Regions from separate parts of the Homo sapiens genome. Here region 1 is linked to region 2. The links come from fine-mapping of genetic effects on gene expression. A gene starts in region 2. The other region holds a variant in brackets. All regions are shown on one strand. Distances are from middle to middle.

What was found.
Region 1: its variant is fine-mapped to the expression of TMEM87A in whole blood (INTERVAL, PIP above 0.99). The same link has a PIP of 0.9 or more in T cells, blood mononuclear cells and monocytes.

Annotation. Positions count from the first base shown.
Region 1 is chr15:42,206,671-42,216,797 of GRCh38, forward strand. VPS39 (VPS39 subunit of HOPS complex) reads right to left here and starts at 1,634. Exons shown (of 25, transcript NM_015289.5): 1 at 1,411-1,634. The coding sequence starts at 1,483. It overlaps TMEM87A (transmembrane protein 87A), which reads right to left. Exons shown (of 20, transcript NM_015497.5): 20 at 3,777-5,079. The coding sequence ends at 5,038. It overlaps VPS39-DT (VPS39 divergent transcript), which reads left to right and starts at 1,731. Exons shown (of 3, transcript XR_932181.3): 1 at 1,731-2,014; 2 at 2,094-2,247. The variant C/T (reference allele first, on the strand shown) is at 4,810.
Region 2 is chr15:42,267,283-42,277,167 of GRCh38, forward strand. It overlaps TMEM87A (transmembrane protein 87A), which reads right to left and starts at 6,151. Exons shown (of 20, transcript NM_015497.5): 1 at 5,973-6,151; 2 at 4,781-4,841; 3 at 665-750. The coding sequence starts at 6,116. It overlaps GANC (glucosidase alpha, neutral C), which reads left to right and starts at 5,919. Exons shown (of 24, transcript NM_198141.3): 1 at 5,919-7,228; 2 at 9,066-9,128. The coding sequence starts at 7,200. RefSeq lists enhancers at 5,501-5,750, 5,911-6,140, 6,113-7,312.

The DNA of each region.
Region 1 (10,127 bases), 60 kb before region 2:
CAATAATAGGCAGCATATGTCTCTAGTATTATAATCTGTTCACGTGTATTTGTCCCCCAGTGTGTGTCCTAGGAGCACAGGCACTGTTTCTTATTCATCATTGTATTACTGTCCCAAGCAAAGAGAATGGCCCGTGTAGCCACCTAATAAGTATATCTGATGAAGCAATGGGGGAATTAATCCTTTCATGCAGTGTCAGGTCTTTCATTTAAAAACTTTTTCTCCTCCTCTATTTAAATGTTTAATGAGAGCATTTAATGACAGAAATTGGTTTTCTTGAGATGTCTGGAGGAAGTAGGATTCTCCTCTTAACCCAAAGGACTAGAACTGCTTACTGTGGAGGTATGATTTTAAAGAGACCCAGAGCTGCTAAAGGAGGAAGGGTGCACATTAACATGAAAATTCTTCGTGAAAGAACCCTACAGAAGAAGTCATCAAGAACTCTGCAAGGATGACTCGGTGACACTGTGAACAGCTGACGCACATGGTATCAGACACCACCAAGATTCCATAAGGCCCATCATGGTTACCTATCTAGCTCAGTATAAGATCTGATTAAGGGATCTGAATCATCTTTTTATGGTCCTTGATTTCTAGGACCTAAACATTAAGAGGAAAGTTAGAAATGATTTCCTTGGTCTTTGGCGGCTGGTATCAAACCAGTCACTCACGGATAAGAGCACAATGTTCACCGTTATCCCTGAAACCTTCATTTGTATTTCAGAGCACACAAGAGATGTCTGTCCCGGCCTTCTGCACTAGTCAATCCCAAAAGGACTATGCTAGTTTTTATGGGTTAGGTTTCAAGACAGTCTGGAAACTCTTCCGCCTACAGTTAGGTAACTTGGACACTTTGGATATAAGGTAATCAACCGCTTGGCTAGATTCAAAGGTTAGCTAACTACATGAGTTCCCTACAGGAATGAGAAATGAACGAATGATCACTAAGGGGAAAAAAAAGCATATGGTGTTAACTTGTTCAATGCCCCCAAAACCAGGGTTGACTTTCATCTAGAAAACAACACAAACATCTGGACAACTTCAAGCCCCTGGCAGGCTGAGAACTTCTTACTGCTTTGACCCTCTAAAATGAAGTCTTCGTGGGAATCAAAATGGGCCAAAGCTGAGCACAACTAAAAAGGAAAGCTCATCCTCCCACTCTGCACAGAGAGCAAAAGCAAGGGGAACTCCCCTAAATGACTGGATCACTGGGATCACCCAAGTAGCCCCACAGACATCGATGTCTATAGCCGGTGGTCATCTCTCTGCCTTCTCTCATCCTAAGCCCCTCTCGTGTAGCATCCAACCGAAGCCCACACGGATGGACGCCTGTCCACTTCCCCGGCCTCAGAAAAGATCCGGACCGCTCCTGTGCTGACTCCGCCTCGGCCCCGCGGCCCCTCGGCTCACCCCAGGCAGCCAGACAGTCGATTTGCAGAGGCAGCTTTTCTAGGATCGGCACTGGCTCGAAAGCGTCGTGCATGGCGGCAAGGGGAGAGTTGCCACCGCCGTCTCGCCCAGAGTGTTCCGGGCCGGGCTGGGGTCCGGAACGAGTCTGGGCTAAGGGTAGACCGGGATCCGGCCAGGAACCCCCCGGCTACAGGCCCTTCAACAACACAGCCATCGTCAACCCCGGACTTCCTGCTAGTTAGGCCCGCCTCTTCCGCAGCCGAAGTCCCGCCCCTTCCTCCCGGTGCACTCTAAATGAATTGTTTTGTTGCTGAGTTGCCATCGTCACTCTGGACCCATAGCTACTCCATCCCGAGTAGCCATGGGCTTACCATAGAAGGAACAAACTCTTAATCTTAGAACTGCTTTAGGCAGTGGGCGTGATGGTTAAAAACTCGGCCTTTGGCGTCGACCTCAGACGGAGATCTACCAATTAGGAAATTAGCTGTGATTTAGAAAATTTAATATTTCGATGCCATACTTTCCTAATCTGCAAAATTTTTGTAAATACCTGTGACCTAGTGTCGTGAGCGCTTAGCAACACCTGACACCCACTAAGCTCTCAGTAAGTGGTAGCTTTAGTATTACCATTATATCCCAATTAGTACAAGCACCTTACCTTAATGCTTTCATGGTTGTTCTAGGCCAGTGGTTCTGAAAGTGGTTCTAGACCAGCAACAACAGCAGTAGCAGCAGCACCTGTGAACTTGTTAGAAATGCAAAGTTTCAGGCCCATTCCAGTTCTACTGAATCTGAAACTCGAAGGGAACAGCAACCTATGTTTTAATAAACCCCAAGGTGAGTCCATGCACTTAAAAGCTTGAGAACCACCATTTTAGGTTAGGGTTGTTCAGCGATAGCACTACCGGCATTTAGGACAGGATAATTTCTTGTTGGGGGAGGGGGCATGTTCTGTACAATGTAAGATGTTTAACAGCATCCCTAACTTCCACCCACCAAATGCCAGTTATCTTCCCCACAGAGGTATAAAAATGTCTCTTTTCCGTATGTCCTCTGGGAGGCAAAATTACCCTGAGAACCACCATTTGAGGCCAATGCTTTTCAAATTTAACGTGCATACAAATCACCTAGAGACATTGTTAAAATGCCTCTTTTGATTCAGTAGGACCAGAGTAAGACCCTCAGTTGAGCACCAAAAATCTCCCAGATGTTGCTGGTCCCTGGATCACATTTTGAGTAGCAAGAGTTTAGGCAAGAGATGATTCACTAACTCTTGGAAGTCAGTGAAATAAGCCTCCTTTTAATTTGATGACCACATTCCTACCAATTCAACTTTCCAAAGCTGTGTCTTACATCCTAATATTCCTTTAGGAAGGTGTCATGGCTTTTCCTCCTATAGGACCTGGGACCTGTACTGTCTGCGGTTACCTTAGTATTCCCCTTGAAGACTTAAAAAACAACAAAGTTTGGGCTGCAAGAATGATCTATATCTGGTCATTTCCCCCTAGGAAAACATCGTAGGTCAAAAAATTAAGCATTTGGGTTTAAAGCAAAAATGTAAAAGAAAAAGGGTAAGTCTGTGATATGAAGTCAAAAAAACTGGTCCTGGTCATTTTATTTTTACACAATATCAGTTTCTTCATATGTAAATTAGGAATACTTGTCCCATCTTTACCAAATGCTGTTCTGATAATCAAGTGAAAAGTACTTTCAAGTAGTCAAAAACATGAAAATTGCTACACAAATCCTGTGTTATAGCTGATTTTCACCATAGAAGCTGATCACCTTCTTAAAAATTTAGAATTACCAGCTGTTGTGCTGGAAGGTCTAGTACCTTTTCGTTCAGGCCCAAAACCCTAAGGTTTATATTGTTTTACAGATTACTGCAAAGCTATCAATTTCTTCTGAACCTAAGAAATGACACACTATATCTATTCCCAGTAATACAGAAAGCTGTAAGTAGAATTATCAGGGCCCAGGCTATAGAACTTGAACTATACACTCCCGCTTAACACAATGGGCTTTTTTTTTTCCTAGTCTCAAGTCAACATCAAAGCAGCCTAAAAAAATAATTTGACCAACTATCCTGCTGCATTACAACTATTATTCATCTGCTACGTTTTAATATGCAATAGCAGCATGCAACAATACCACCAGCTTTTGGCTAATGACTTAGCATGAGAATATAGTCAGTTCTTCAGATTGCTGTTCCTCAGAGATACTTCCTAGGAAACTTTTTTAAAAATCACCATAGCAAAGAGTTGTAGAGAAACTACCTAAGGGTTAACACTTTCACTGCAGTATGAGTTAGTGAAGATTGTGGTCATGTGGTCATTGGTTTTAACAGAAAATAAGACAATCTAGAATAAAAGCCATAGAAAGAAATTTTTCATGAGTTTGACAGAAAGAGTCTTTAGAAAAAGTTTGAAAAAAATGAGAAAAATACATTAATTTTGTTAAATTTTTTTATATTAAAAAGTGGCATGAACTTTTTATGTAGAACAAAAATCTTGGGAAGGCAAAATTGGATAAAACCATTAAAACAGAAATAGAGTGCTTCAAATGAATCCCATCACCTTGTGATGTCCCTTATTAACAGTCTCTAAACCAATACCAGATACCAGAACAGTCCATCCTAAAGAACGAGCAGCAGTCCAGGGCCTCCACGCTACTTCATGCAATAACTGTTTAAATTAAGCCAGCAGGACCTGTTTCCTTTGTATAAGCTACAACTTCTGAAGCATTACAGTTCCTCTAGCACGGTGCTCAATCACAGCACTTGGAGCACCTCTCTGCATAAAGGCAAACAAAACATTGCCTAAGGACCCTGCAATGCCACCCTTGGAGGCTTACAAAACAGTAGTTAAAAGTTTCGGAGTGTGCACCACATTGCCAGCAATGGGATGTGTCACAATAGCAGATGTCAAAAGAGTTAAGCTAATATTTCTCTTTAAAGTACATCTGAAATAGAAAAATCTTTAATATACACCATTTGTAAACAAAATTGCACTTGATTTTGCTTTTTTAAATGATCTGAATCATACTGTAACAGTTTCTCTTTTTTTTTTTTTCTTTTGATCATTGATAGAACTATGGCTCCTTAACTCAGAAGGGCCCTTTTTTCTCAAAACAACCTCTGCAAGATGTAACCTTGACTTCCCAGGAAAATGAAAGGTAGTTAACAATTTCCCCCATCACCTATGTAACTCCCTAAATAAATAAAAATTACAGGCAGTTGCTCCTGGAGATTACATATTATGGTGTTGATGACAATCTTTTAGAAGACGTTAAACTTTTTAGTTTGTCAGATTTAAAAAATGAAACATTACAGAAAGTTCAGGAACAACACACTTAAGTTGCATGAACATCCATGTCAGAGTCTGGGAGGAAAGGGGGCAG[C/T]AGTGTTGTAAATAAGAAGCTCGTAGATTTTTCTCATCTTATGAACTTGTTTTCAGTAAGATGTTCTCTTTGTTCTGACACCTCTCGCCAACTCCAATGCCCAAAGATCAAGGAACAGATCAGGATGTCATTGCTTCCTTTAATCCCATGGAGCCGTACAGAAGACTGACACAGATGCTGATCTCTTCCCTGATGGTAGCCATCTTTAACTGCAAATCTTCCCATTCCTTACTCCATTTTGGACCTTTCAAAGTGTGTGATCATTCGTTCCTAGGGAAAAAAAAAAAGGTTGAAGTATATTAGGTTAAAATGATCTATATTCCAAATATCTTCTATACAGACTATCCAAGCAAACATCTTCCACGAGTACTTTATGTTAATTAAATGTTTAGAGAAATGGTTCCTAAACATTTGTGAAGATTTTGAACATACAGATGTCCAGACCTCACCCAAGAACAACTAAATCAAAAGCTCTAGGCTTCTGGACAGAAAATCAGCACTCAGAAGGAAATGTATAGAGTCAGCTAAGATCTTATGTAAACAAATATTTACATAAGATTAGGCTTTAATAAAAATGTGTAACTCCTCTAATTCAGGAATTTCACTTGAAGACCCAGTGAAGGATGAGGGCAAAGACGTGCACCTAGTTAGCACTTTGCACTTTAGAATGGTTAGGAGGGTTGATTTGTTATGTGTTTTTTACTACACTTTTTAAAAATCATGTAAAAAATAAAATTACATTTAATTTAATATAGTATTTACAGTATCCCATTTCAATTAAAATAATTAATGTACTACCCTTAAATTTCCCTTCTTAGGCAATTTTATACCTTAGAGTTAATTTTCATTTTTCTTTTGCTTCATTTGCGAAGTACCTCTCACTATTGTATCACAAACTGACAGAACTACAAATCCTTTTTGAATATAATCAATCACATCAGATAATCTATAGATGTTTCCCTTTTTCTTAAAAATATCCTTTCCGATGCTCTCTGTTCTCCACTCCATCCAAGCCTGGTGCCCAGCTGCCAACCTGAGAATTTCTTACATCATACTGGGAATTTTTCTTGTCTCTGTGTTGGACCCTTTATTTCCTAGATCCCAAGTCTTTTTCCTAGCTTCCTCATTTTTGTGGAGAACATTTTCCCCTACTTTCTTCAGAAACTGCATATAGAACATCAATTATTTTACTTCTTGTGTGACTAGAAACATCTTTATTTTACCCTCATAATGATAGTTTAGTTGAGTACAGAATTCTAGGTTGAAAATGATTTTCCTCAGAATTCAAAGGCTTTGTTCTGGCTCCCAAAGATGTTGTTGAAGAGCCTTATGCCATTTTGATTCCTGGTCCATCATGTAAATTGTTTCTCCTGTAATTCATTTAAGGTCTTTTTCAGTTTTAAGGGAAAAAAAGGCCTTGGAGAAAGTGATGTCAGCAAGATGACAGAATAGGAAGCCCTGGACACTCCTTCCCTCTACAGACACACTGATTCAATAACACATGGAAAAATTCCCTTTGTGGGAAATCCAGAAACCAGTTGAGGGTCTTCTGCACTATAGGAAAGCATGAAACCAGCTGAATCAAAGTCGGCAGAAAAACCTGAGGCACCCTCTTGCCATAATTCTTCCCTTCCCATGGACCCAGCACAGTACCACATGATAGAGAGGAAACCCTCAGCTCCCAGCTTCTTTTTGCAGAGGGAAGGAAATGACTGGAATGTACATCCAACATTCTGACTTTTCTGGAACCTGCACGAGAGACTGTTTTCTGTCTTGCCTGAGTCCGAGAGCTAAAAACAAAGGGCCCAGGTTGGAAGTTGCTGAAATCAAAGTGGAAGTTTGGACTAGCAAGCATGAGCTCACTACAGCCGCTCCCCCAGCTCAGTGCAGAGTAAGCAGGTAGAATCCCCAACATCCCCAAATCCTAGCTTTTCCCTAGGGAGGAGAGATGGACTGTGAAAATGTTCCAACTTTGTAAGAGGTTACCTGAGGGAATGGTTTCTGTAGGGAATGGTTTGAAGCACAGATGGGACCAGTATATTTTAGGTGCCTGGGGCCAGTATGAACAAAAAAAGAGCTGGGCTATGCCACTGGCTCCAGGAGACCCATGATACAGCAGATAAACACAAAAGGGAGCAAGAGATTATAAATTCCTGGGGAGGGAAAAACCCAGCAAATCCCTCTGATTGGGAATACATATGCAGAAGTCCAGAAAAGACATAATACAGAGTGGGTTAGAGAGGCTATCAGAATGATTGATGAGGGTGTTCTCCTGTACAATGCCAGTCCATGAACACTGGAAAGGTAACTGTTTTTTTTTCTAATGCAATGAAACCAACACAAAGAATTAAGGAAAATAGAGAATCAGTGAAACATGGCCCAAACAAAGGAAGAAGATAAATCTCTGGAAACCAACCCCAGTGAAACAGAGGTATAGGAATTATTTGAAAGAGAATGCAAAACAACTATCATGAAGATGTTCAACGAACTCAGGAGAACAATGCATGAACAAAGTAAGAATTTCAATAAAAATATACAAAACATTTTTAAAAATATGCCAAGAAACTGGATAACCTAGAACAAAATATATAATTCCTAGAAGTATACAATCTACCAAGACTGAATCATCAAGGAATAGAAAATCCGGGGGGGGAACACACAACCTGGTAAGACCTACAACAAGATTCCATCAGTAATCAAAAACATCCCAACAAAAAAACAGCCCAGGACCAGATGGCTTCTTTAGTTGAGTCCTACCAGGTACTTAAAGACAAAGTAACACTAATCCTTCTTAAACGCTTTCAAAAAAATTAAAGACGAAAACATTTATTTGGAAGGAACTTCCAAACTTATTCTATGAGGCCAGCATTACCCTAATGCCAAAGCCAAAGACATGACAAGAAGAGAAACGACAGGCCAATATCCCTGATGAGCAGACGCAAAAATCTTCAATGAAACAATGGAAAACAGAATTTAACGGCACGTTGAAAGAATCACATACTATGACCAAGTGGAACAAAATAGAAAGCCCAGAAATAAAACTACACATACATGGTCAACTGATCTTCGAAAAGAGAGACAACACTACACAGTGGGGAAACTGACAGTTTCCTCAACAAATGGTGCTGGAAAAACTAGATATTCACATGAGAAAGAATGAAAGTAACTCATCTTCACTATACACAAAAATCAACTCAAAATAGATTAAAGACTTAGACAAGTCAAAATAGATTAAAGAATTAGACATAAGATTTGAAACCACAAAACTCCTAGAAGACAACCTAAGTTTCTTGAAATTGGTCTTAGCAGTGATTTCTTGTCTAAGACACCAAAAGCACAAAACAAGAGCAAAACAGACCAATGGGACTACATCAAACTAAAAAGCTTCTGCACAGCAAGGGAAGCACACAACAGAATGAAAAGCAACCTACAGAATTGGAGAAAATATTTGCATACTACATACAGTCACGTATACTTAATGATAGGGATACATTCTGAGAACTGCATCATTAGGCAATTTCATAGCTGTGTGAACTTCACAGAATATACTTACACAAATCTAGATGTTATATAGCCTACTACATACCTCGGCTATATGTATAAGCCTATTGCTCTAGGCTAAAAACCTGTACAGCATGTTACTGTACTGAATACCAAAGGCAACTGGAATACAATGGTAAGTATTTGGGTATCTAAAGTTATCTAAACATTGAAAAGGTACAGTAAAAATTCAGTATTGGCCAGGTGCGGTGGCTCACGCCTGTAATCCCAGCATTTTGGGAGGCTGAGGTGGGTGGATCACAAGGTCAGGAGACCGAGACCATCCTGGCTAACACGGTGAAACCCCGTCTCTACTAAAAAAATGCAAAAAATTTGCCGGGCGTGGTGGCGGGCGCCTGTAGTCCCAGCTACTTGGGAGGCTGAGGCAGGAGAATGGCGTGAACCCGGAGGTTCTTATGGGACCACTGTCATATATGTGGTCCGTTGCTGACTGAAATGTGGCATAGGACTGTATCTGATCAGGGTTAATATCCAAAATATATAAGAAACCCCTACAATTCAACAGCAAAAAATCAACTAACTTGATTAAAAACTGGGCCAGGGACTGGAAGAGACATTTCTCAAAAGAGGGCTTCCAAATGGCTGACAGGTATATAAAAAAAATGCTCATCATCACTAATCATCAGAGAAATACAAACCAAAACCACAAGGTGTCACGTCACACCTGTTAGGATGGTCATTATCAAAAAACAAAAAATAACAAATGTGGGCAAAGAAAGAAATTGGAACCCCTGTGCATTGCTGGTGGAAATGTAAAATGGTGCAATCACTATGGAAAACAGTATGAAAGCTCCTCAAAAAAATTAAAAAATAACTACCATATAATCCAGTAATCCCACTTCTGCATATATACCTAAAAGAAATGAAGCAGGATCTCAAAGAGAAATGTGCACTCCCATGTTCACTGCAACATTATTCACAACAGCCAAGGTATGGAAATAACCCGTGTCCACTGACAGATAAATGGATGAAGATAACATGTTACATATATACAATGGAACACTTGTCAACCTTAAAAAGGAAGGAAATTCTGACATGTGCTACAACTTAGATAAATCTTGAAGACATTATGCTAAGTGAAATAAGCAAGCCACAGGGGGACAAATGCTGCATGATTCCACTTATATGAGTTATCTAAAATAGAACTCAAAGGCAGAAATAGAATGATGGATGCCAGGCGCTGAGGGAGGGGGAAAGCAAGAGTTGCTATTCAACAGGTATAAAATTTCATTTAAATGAGATGAAAATGTTCTAGAGATCTGCTGTACAACATTGTGCTTATACGTAATAATACTGTAACGTACACTAAAGGAGTTAAGAGAGTAGATCTCATTGTTATGTTTTCTTACCACAAAAAAGCCTTATGTATACCTGGAAAATCTTGCACAGTGTTTTCACAGAGGAAAATATGAACAGATGGCTGAACTCAGTGCCACCAAATTACTATAGCAAACTTGCATTCCCATGAAGGGCACAATCAGGTTTCAATTAATCAGCCTTCTCTGCTTATAGCAGCTCATGGAGAGCTGAAGTACAAGGGAAGCCTTAAAGGCAAATAATTAGCAGAGGAAGACCTCAAGAGGGAGATGTGGGAACAGCAGAATATACCACAGAAAGCAAAGTGTTATGTAGATAGGTTCAAATCTGAATGGTAGAGTTCTCAATTATTTCAACACATAGAACAGCTAAGGAATTTGATACTGTACATGCTGTGTCAAAGATCATGTCAGTGGGAAATGAACAAAACATTTTTAGCA
Region 2 (9,885 bases):
TCAGTGGATTTCTTATCAGAGTACAAAAAAAGTTCATTAATATTTCAGATTCCACATTGCAACTAACCTTTAAAAACTTCCACTTGTTGAGTTTTGGTATAGAATCAAAAAAGAATATCCTCAGTTATCTGAAAAGGCCATTAAAATACCATTCCTTTTCCCAACTATATATCTGTATGAGGTCATTATTTTCTACATGTACTTAAGCCAAATTATTGCAACAGACTGAGTGAAGGAGGGAATATAAGAATACAGTGATCTTCTGTTATGCCAGATAGTAAACAAATTTACAAAAATACAAAACAATCCTACTCTTCTGTGTGGTTTTCTGGGAAAAACAGTTATTTATATTAACATGCAATAAGTTTATTATTGCTACTTTAAAATAAACTAATAAATATTTTTATATTTTCTCAGTTGTAATTTCTAATAGCATAACCCACATGCTCAAAGGCTTTCTGGAGTCCACAATAATTTTTACAAATATAAGAGTTCTGAAACCAAAAAGTTTGAGAATTGGTGGTCTGCAAATTGGGAAGCATGCATTCTAGTTTCAGCTCTCCTCCTCCATAGCTACATGATACTCTTTCCTCTATGAAATTAAGAGACTGGAACCAGATAATCACTAAGGTCCAAAAAAACTCTGTAATTTTATGTTCCTTACCTTGAAGTTATAGATTTCATTGTAACAATCAGCGCTTTTCAGATACCAGGTTATATTCAAAGACAGGTCACAAGGTTCTCCATCAACTACAAAAGAAGAAATCTTTGTTAACAAAAGATAATTCCCCAACAAAGCATTTTTCCTAAGCTGTTAACCTATATCCTATTCATTTCGTACCCTAAACTGAGATACTCAAAGACCATCCTTTCTCCAAACATAAGGTATTGAAATAATACATGCAAAAAGAGCTGGATATTAAGATAAAAGTATTGTTGTTCATAGAAAAATAGCAGGTAAGCAGTTTTTAACCTCTGGAAACTGTGGATCTATTTTTATGCCATAAAGTCCTAACTTCTGGATCTCTATTGAGAAAAACCTGGGAGTGATAAAGCACTCTAAATTCAAGCCAGTCTTCTATTATTTAAGTATTTATTGAGCAGGCTAGGTGCGGTAGCTCACACCTATAACCCCAGAAGTTTGGGAGGCCAAGGCAGGGGGATCGCTTGAGCCCAGGAGCTCAAGACCACCCTAGGCAACATAGTGAGAACTCATCTCTACAAAAAATGATTAAAAAGCTAGGCGTGGTGGTACATGCTTGTAGTCCCAGCTACTCAGGCAAGGGAGGCAGGAGGATCACTTGAGCCCAGGAGGTCAAGTCTGCAGTGAGCCATGATGGTACCACTGCACTCCAGCCTGGGCGACAGAGCGAGACCCTGTCTCAAAAAACATAAATAAATAAATAAATAAATAAATAGCACAAGTATTACAAAGGTATAATGGCACACTGTTAGGCTAAAGAGGGAAACGAGTGGAAACAAATTATTAAGACCCTTCAAAAGGCTAGTTGAAGAGACAAGCAATAATAAAATTAGGAATGCATGTCACAAGGCAATATTAACAACTGTTAAATGGTGTTAAATGATGATATACATAATAGTTCCACTGAGAGCAAAATTGCTATCTCAGACCTTGAAAGATATCAAGATAGAACAGAAAGAGCAATGAACGAAAAGCAAACATGGCTGTGGAAGGTAGAAATAGCAAAAGCAAAGATAAGAGTATCAGATTTTTTTTTTCAAAGCCTACCTTAAAAGAGGCCTCAAGGAAGCTCATGTTATCATGGAAGCTTCATAAAGCTCATTAAACACAGTTTGGAACACAGTATTCTAATGGATCAAGACATTATTCTGAAGACTTGGGAGGGTAAATCTGACTATATGACTGATTAGCTGGAGGAAGTCAGTATTCGCTTTTATCTTTGATTCTAGCTATGAAAGGAAAAATATACTAAAGACTCCCTACTTTATATAAATGTAATAATAAACATGACAAAAATAAACATGACTGCATTTAGGAATCTACTTTTCATTCATAACAAAAGAAGCAACCTAATTATAAGCTTCCTTTTTTTTTCTTTTAAACTGTTTTCTCAAACTAATTTTTAGATGACCAACACATTTTCAAAGGACTCTATTAGAATGTTCAAAAATTTGACCTGTTGGATAGAATTTATGGAAATGATAAAAAGCAATTGGGCTATGAACTATTCAAAATAATCCATACAGGGACAGGATTAACTAATAAAAAGCCAGTAAGAACACATCCCCCAAACAGGAGACTTGTAAGGAAATTTGGCAGCAAAAATACTGCTGTTTATGTTACAAGACAATATTTAGAACTTTAAATGAAAGGCTTTAAGAGACAATAAGGTCGGGCGCGGTGGCTCACGCCTGTAATCCCAGCACTTTGGGAGGCCGAGGCGGGTGGATCATGAGGTCAGGAGATCGAGACCATCCTGGCTAACAAGGTGAAACCCCGTCTCTACTAAAAATACAAAAAATTAGCCGGGCGCGGTGGCGGGCGCCTGTAGTCCCAGCTACTCGGGAGGCTGAGGCAGGAGAATGGCGTGAACCTGGGAAGCGGAGCTTGCAGTGAGCCGAGATTGCGCCACTGCAATCCGCAGTCCGGCCTGGGCGACAGAGCGAGACTCCGTCTCAAAAAAAAAAAAAAAAAAAAAAATGGTCCCAGCTATTCCATGGAAAGCTATATACCATCCCCCAAAAAGTACAAAATCAAAGACAACTGGTAAATATGAGAAAGCACAGAAATAACAAAGAAAAAGATAATGTTAAAGTGTCTCAGGCCGGGCACGGTGGCTCACACCTGTAATCCCAGAACTGTGGGAGGCCAAGGCAGGCAGATAACTTGAGGTCGGGAGTTCGAGACCAGCCTGGCCAATATGGTGAAACCCCCACCTCTGCTAAAAATACAAAAATTAGCCGGCGTGGTGGCACGCGCCTATAGTCCCAGCTACTCGGGAGGCTGAGGCAGAAGAATCGCTTGAACCCAGGAAGCAGAGGTTACAGTGAGCCGAGATCGTGCCACTGCATTCCAGCCTGGGCGTCACAGCAAAACTCCGTCTCAAAAAACAACAACAAAAAATAAAGTGCCTCAAATCCTCCAAAAACAATGAAATATAAACACTTCAAAATACGCAGTTAGGGCTGGGCATAGAGACTCATGCCTGTAATCCCAGCTACTCGGGAGGCTGAGGCAGGAGAATCGCTTGAACCTGGGAGGTGGAGGTTGCAGTAAGCCAAGATCGTACCACTGCACTCCAGTCTGGGTGACAGAGTGAGACACCATCTTAAAAAAAATGCAGTTGGTTTAACTTGGCAAAACACCACTAGATCAAACTACACGAGAAAAAAAGACTGGACCTAATAAAAGAATAAAACAGCAAACAGGCTGTCAAGCTATTCCAAAAGACAAGGGTTACTAGGTTACCCAGTAAACCAATCTCACAAGGCCAGTGTCAGAGTAGATTTGATCTAAATCAAATATAAGTCACTGGTCAGGAGACTGATTACATATTCATGGATACAGTATATATTCTTCAGAGAAATTCTACCTGCTGTTTTCACTCCCACTAGAATGTAAGCTCGATGAGGGAAGAACATTTTTCTATTACTTCCCCACAGTCTATGCAATAAGTAATAATTACTCACTAAACAATTGAAAAGAATAAAATTATCCAACTATGACTTAAAATTTTGCACTTCCGTGAAGACAGTATGCATAGAATCACACATCTATCATCAGGATTTTTATCCCTCATCTAGAAATAAAGCTGCCCACGATCAATCGTTCTCTAAATTAAAGCCGGTTTCAGAACTAAAAGGAAGCTTTTACTGAACACACAATGGGATACTTTAGATTCAGATACAGTCATTTTTCCACTAGACAAACTAGTTTTGTTCTACATAATCCCTATTTCTTGATAATATCTGAGCTTCCTCTTCCAAAGCAGTAAAATACTCCTTTTGTAAATAAAGGATCTACTAAATATATTCCTTCACAGCCAACGGCCTGACAAACCTAGGTCATGTTTGCAGTAAACATTTAACAAGCACACAAGAGTAAAACCTCTTTAATCTACACAGAACAGATTAAAACCACCATGCAGGGAATCAACCCCAACATAATCACAGTCATTCACTACATAACATTTCAGTAAATGAAAGACTACATATACAACGGGGGTCCCATAAAATTGTAATATCGTATTTGTACTCTACTTTCCTATGTTTAGATATACAAAAACTTACCATTGTGTTACAACCACCTATAGCATTCAGTACAGTAACATGTTATACAGGTTTATAGCCTAGGAGCAATAGGCTGTACCATACAAACTAGGCGTGTAGTGCCATCCAGTTTTAAGTATACTCTATGATGTTTGCATAATGACAAAATCACCTAAGGATGCTTTTCTCAGAAAGTATCAACTGTAAATGTAATTCGACTGAGATGTGACTGAATATTCAATGTAGTATATACAGCATATATATTAATATATACATTATATATACTAATATATAATGTCTACATAGTGTATATATGCAATGTAAACACCAGAAAAACAAGAGAAGAAAATAAAGTTCACACGAGTACTTTGAAGATGATTCAGTAAAAGGACCTTAGTAATACTAAAAATATTTATACCTAGATAATGCCAGACTATTAGATTTCAGAACTTATAAAATAGGTAATTTAAAACATTACCTATAAATTTTTAAAATTCAAATTAAAACTTCATGAAATTCAAAAACTCACACTTCAGGAAGATAGTGGTATTTCTGAAGAGGATCTTTCCAAAACTAAAATAATTTTTCCCCTGCAAACATAAAGGAAAGATAATTAGCCTCAGATGGCTTCAATTACCAAAGCATCATATAACTATCTAAGACTGCTAGAAATTCCAACTTAACTTAAATCTTTATGGGACGTACCCCTTAATCAGTTCATTCCCTTTACTCACCAATCACTGCTCAGAATAACCAATCATTTTTTCTAATGAACTATTCTGTGTGCAAATAACCAGAGTTTTATTTTCAAATCTAAAAAGACTTAACTATTAACCATTTTAGTAACAAGTAAAAACCTAACTGAACACCTGAAAATCTTCACCACTGAACAAAAGGTATAACGTTTACCATAATAAAAGCCCAAATAAGATTTGGACATTACAGTCAGTGAGCAGAGCAGAATGAAACAAAAAGGCCAACGTAGGTTTAATGGGGCTAATGCTTTTCAGCATTTCCTCCCTGCATCTGGTTTTTGTCTGCTCACAGGACTATACCTGTTACTGAAATAAGGTTTAAAATGGGTAAGGGGCAGAAAGGGTCAACCCATGTAGTTAATTATCCAAATGAAAGACTAGCCTTACCACATTAAATTTTAAGTACTATTTCTTCAATTTTAACCATTCCCATGTTAAAACACATTTCTTAAATCTCTATGCTTTCTAGTCACACAGTAAAGCTTAGAATAGCCATTCCAAAGTTGAAGCGAAGTCGAACCATCTCGTAAGCAGAATTACCCAGGGACCAAGAAGTGCAGAGGAAGAAAAAGAAAGAAAGAAATGAAGACTCCTATTTACATATCTTTCTTATCCAACCCGGGGACACTGGATTCTGTGAAACATCTGAAAGATAAACAACTCTCCGTTTGTACATCAAGTTTACATCTCAAGTCAGGCACTGAAAGTTCTGTTTTTCTGATGAGAAGCCGCTCCACCACTCCTTTCTGTTGCTGAAGTGGCCCTTACATTCCCGCTAGCCTAATCACAGAAGTGCGCGGCTTTCCACTCCAGGGAGGTGGGTCCCAGTTGGCTAGCCACACAGACCATCCCAGCAACCCCACCCCTTTTGAAGAGACTTTTGCGGAACCTTCATGGACCCCTTGGGCCGCCGTAGCCCCACCCCTTGCTCCTCTAGGTTCAGACGTTAGTGAAGTGAATACTCACCGACGGTATCGGAATGTGCCATTTGGACCGGTCGGCAGCAGCTACGGTTGCCGGTCCCGCACTGAAAAACGACAGTGGTGACGGGTGAGCTCCCAGAAGCAGAAGAATGACAGGCAACACCTGAAGCCACGCAGCCGCCGCCATCTTCACAGCCGTGGAGTGCCTACCGAAAGCATTTCACCCTCTTCCGGTTCGTCCCGCCTTCTTCCGGCTCTGCTCTAAGGGCGGGATTATCCGGGTCCTGGAAACGTCGCGGAGCTTGTTTGCTGTGCGGCGTAGCGGCCCCTCTCTCAGACAGTCGTCTGTGCGCCGTGAGACTTTGGACCTACTGCGCAGGCGTCATCCTGTTGGAACCTGGTCAGCTGGGTTAGAGAGATCGCTACATGCCAGCCTGGCCTGAGTCTTTTCTGTCTCCCAGCCGTTAAAGGTTTTAGGACCAGGCAGGCACCCCGTGCAGGATTTGGCTCTCTACTTCCGCTCGCCCCAGCCCTTCATCCCTTCTAAGTCAATGTCAGACTTTGGGGCCAGAAAGTCTGGAAAAGCCCTAAGCCTGGCTGCCCAAGTGGCGTCTAGTAGTGAGTTCTCCGGTTTGGGTGGTATTTAAGCAAAGGCTGGAATTCGGCGGTGGTGGAGTACACGCGATTCCTAGACTGGGTAGTGTAACAACCTTCAAAGGCCCCTTCTAGCCCTGAAGAGTACGATGCTGCAGTACAATCTGGCTGGAGACCTAGCCTCCAGCAAAGACCCGGCCGGCACTTCCCACCCTTAACCGAAAACGGAGACAGAGAGGGTCAGTTTTCAAAATCTGTGGCGTGACCCCGCCACTGAGATAGATCTGCAGATGCTTCGTCCCAGTCAGGGAGGCCGTCTCGGCATTTCCAGGTTCTTAACGCTCTTGATTTTTACCCTCTAGGACTCATTGCGTACACGCCCTCACCGCCGCCCAGTTTCGGTTCCTAACAAAAGCACGTTCCTCATCAGCCACCCATAATCAAGACAAATTTGCCAAATAAATCATTGTAGAAACGCTAGTTTGGGCCTGAAAAATTCCAGGAGCAAGAGTCAAGATTTGTCACTCCATGAGAATCTGGAGGGGACTCCCTTCCCAGAAACTTGACGATGAAGTACTGGTTGTAATTTTAGAAAGACACCCAATCGGCTTTTTTAAAAGATCGCCCAGGGCCCTTGTCCTGAGAGCTGGGAGCTGGTCGGAGTGACAGAGAAGCCATGGAAGCAGCAGTGAAAGAGGAAATAAGGTAAAGGCCAAGTGCTTCTGTAGCGAGTGACCCCAGGGTCCCTAGAAACAGGGAATAGTGTTTTAATTGCATTTCTTATTTGCGTATTTGGTATTTGCTGACCTTTATCTTTTCTCTCAATTCGCGGGAAGTTAGTTGATATTAATAGCCTCTCATAAAATACTTTCAGGATGGTTAAATAGGCCGGGTGCAGTGGCTCACGCAGGTAATCCCACAGCACTTTGGGAGGCTAAGGTGGGAGGATCGCTTGAGTTCAGGAGTTCGAGACCCCCTCCCCGCCCCCTCGGAGTCCCAGCTACTTGGGAGACCACTGGGAGGATGGATTTGGAGGCTGCAGTGGAGCTGTGATCTTGCCACTGCTTGGGCAACAAAGTGAGACCCTGTCTCCAAAAAAAAAGGATGGTTAAATAACATTAACAGTGGAAAAGTTGCAATCAGAACTCTTAACACGTGAATTTCAGGCATGTTGCTTTCCAAATTCATCTATAATCACCCCTTCCTATATCATCCCAGAGTTAATTCTTCGAAGCTGTAAAGAGGAAACAAAAGATTCTCCAATCTTTGTACACTTGATTAAAATAAACTGGGCCGGTTCGCTCATGCCTGTAATCCCAGCACTTTGGGAGGCCTATAGGTGGGCAGATTGCTTGAACCCAGGAGTTCAGACCAGCCTGGGCAACATGCTGAATCCCTGTCTCTACAAAAATTTTAAAGTTAGCCAGACGTGGTGATGTGGGCCTGTAGTCCCAGCTACTCAGGAGGCTGAGGCAGGAAGATAGCCTGAGCCCAGGAGGCGGCAGTTGCAGCAAGCCAAGATCGTGCCACTTCACTCCAACGTAGGAGGCAGAGCGAGATCCTGTCTCAAAAAAAATTTTTTTAATAAATTAAAATAAACGGACAAAGACTGAGTTCAGTGAAGGACAAACAGTTTTTTAGTATGGCCAAGTATATCTGCCTGGGCTTGTTTTCATAATATTTCGACGTTTGTGTTCAGTCATAGCTTTCTACATAATCATGGACATGCTGACTACAGATGCATTCGGCCACACTAGTGCATGAAAGCCGGTGTAATTTTTTTTTCTCCTTATAATCTGTAGTTGTTTTAATCAGATGGAGGCTAGTTTAAATACATATACTCAAACTTCAATATACATATATCTCATTCATGTTTTATCCCAGAAACAGCTCTTCTGGAAACTTGGTTTTAAAAAACATGGCCCCTAGTTTGTCACCTCATCTTAAAAAGCAAGAAATTCCCCTTCTACGTCTGTTCTGTTCTTATTCTAGCACCTTGCACCTCTATTAAAGCATTTGTCAGCTTGTATTGTGATTGCTGGTAAAACCCTAACTGATAGCTTGAACACAGTTCATATCTTCCTCAGAGCCCAGCTCTCAGGAAGAATATTCTGAAAATATTTTCTTGAATAAATCGGTGGGTGGGTTATGGTTCTTAGTTTGTCTGGTTGGTTGGTTTTGGTTTGTTCGTTTTGGGATGCTGTTTTGGTTTTCCTCCTTCAGATTTTACTTTTGTGGTCATAGCCTTCAGTCATTATTTCAAAAGAATATGTCCTCATAAGTGACAGTGATCTTTTCCCATTACTTTTGGAGTAATCCCAGAACCTGATGTTTTGTTGTTTACCTCAGAGGGTTTACAAAAGGCTATTGTTCTGCAACATAATGTGCTATTATGTTATACTGTGGCCGTGACACAATTTTGCATTGCAGAATAGACTCCAAAGGTTTATTTTGCATGTTCATACTGTCGTTAGAGAAGGTACAAAAGTTGGATTCACAAGCCCTGTGTGAAATAAATTTCTCAAAATGTCTTTTTATTTAGTCTTGAAGATGAAGCTGTAGATAAAAACATTTTCAGAGACTGTAACAAGATCGCATTTTACAGGTAAGGAAAATAAATATAGTAGCTAGATCAAAACATCTCTGACAGTATTTCAAAATTGATGCTTATTAAATTTTTGGAACTGATAGACTTTCCAAGGAAAGGATAATTTAATAATTAAGGAAATCATCAGACAGGAGACTCACTTTTAACTTTATACATTTACTCCTGAAGTATTTAAATTTTTCAATAAACAGCTATTTTATTTTAAAAGCCAAAATATTTTTAAACTAGTTTTAAATTTTGACGCTTTGAATAGATAACACTTTTACATGGTTCAAAAATAATATAAAGAGCTATACATTGAAAAATGTTGCTTCCACTCCTGTCCCCTTCTACCCATTCCTCATCTTGTCCCGAATAACCGAATTTCTTCATTTCTTATTTATCCTTCCAGTATTTTTTTGTAAATACATGTATTTTTATATTATTGCTTTTCTCTTTTTTTAATCACCCCTTTTTATACCAAATAGGTTTTTTTTCCTGCTTTATAGTTTGTTCTGAGGAGAAATTCATATGAGTGCATGGAGATTGTTTCTCCTTTTTACAGCTGCATAATATTCCATGGGGTAGATATACTATTAATATAATTTATTCAGTCTGTCTCTTATTGCTAGACCCTTGGGTTGTTTTTAATCTTTTGCTAAAATAGCACTACCACAATGAAGAGCTATACATAGGTCATTTTCTACACATGCAGGTGTATTTATAGGATACCTTTCTAGGAGTGAGATTACTGGGTCAAAGAGTAAATGCATTT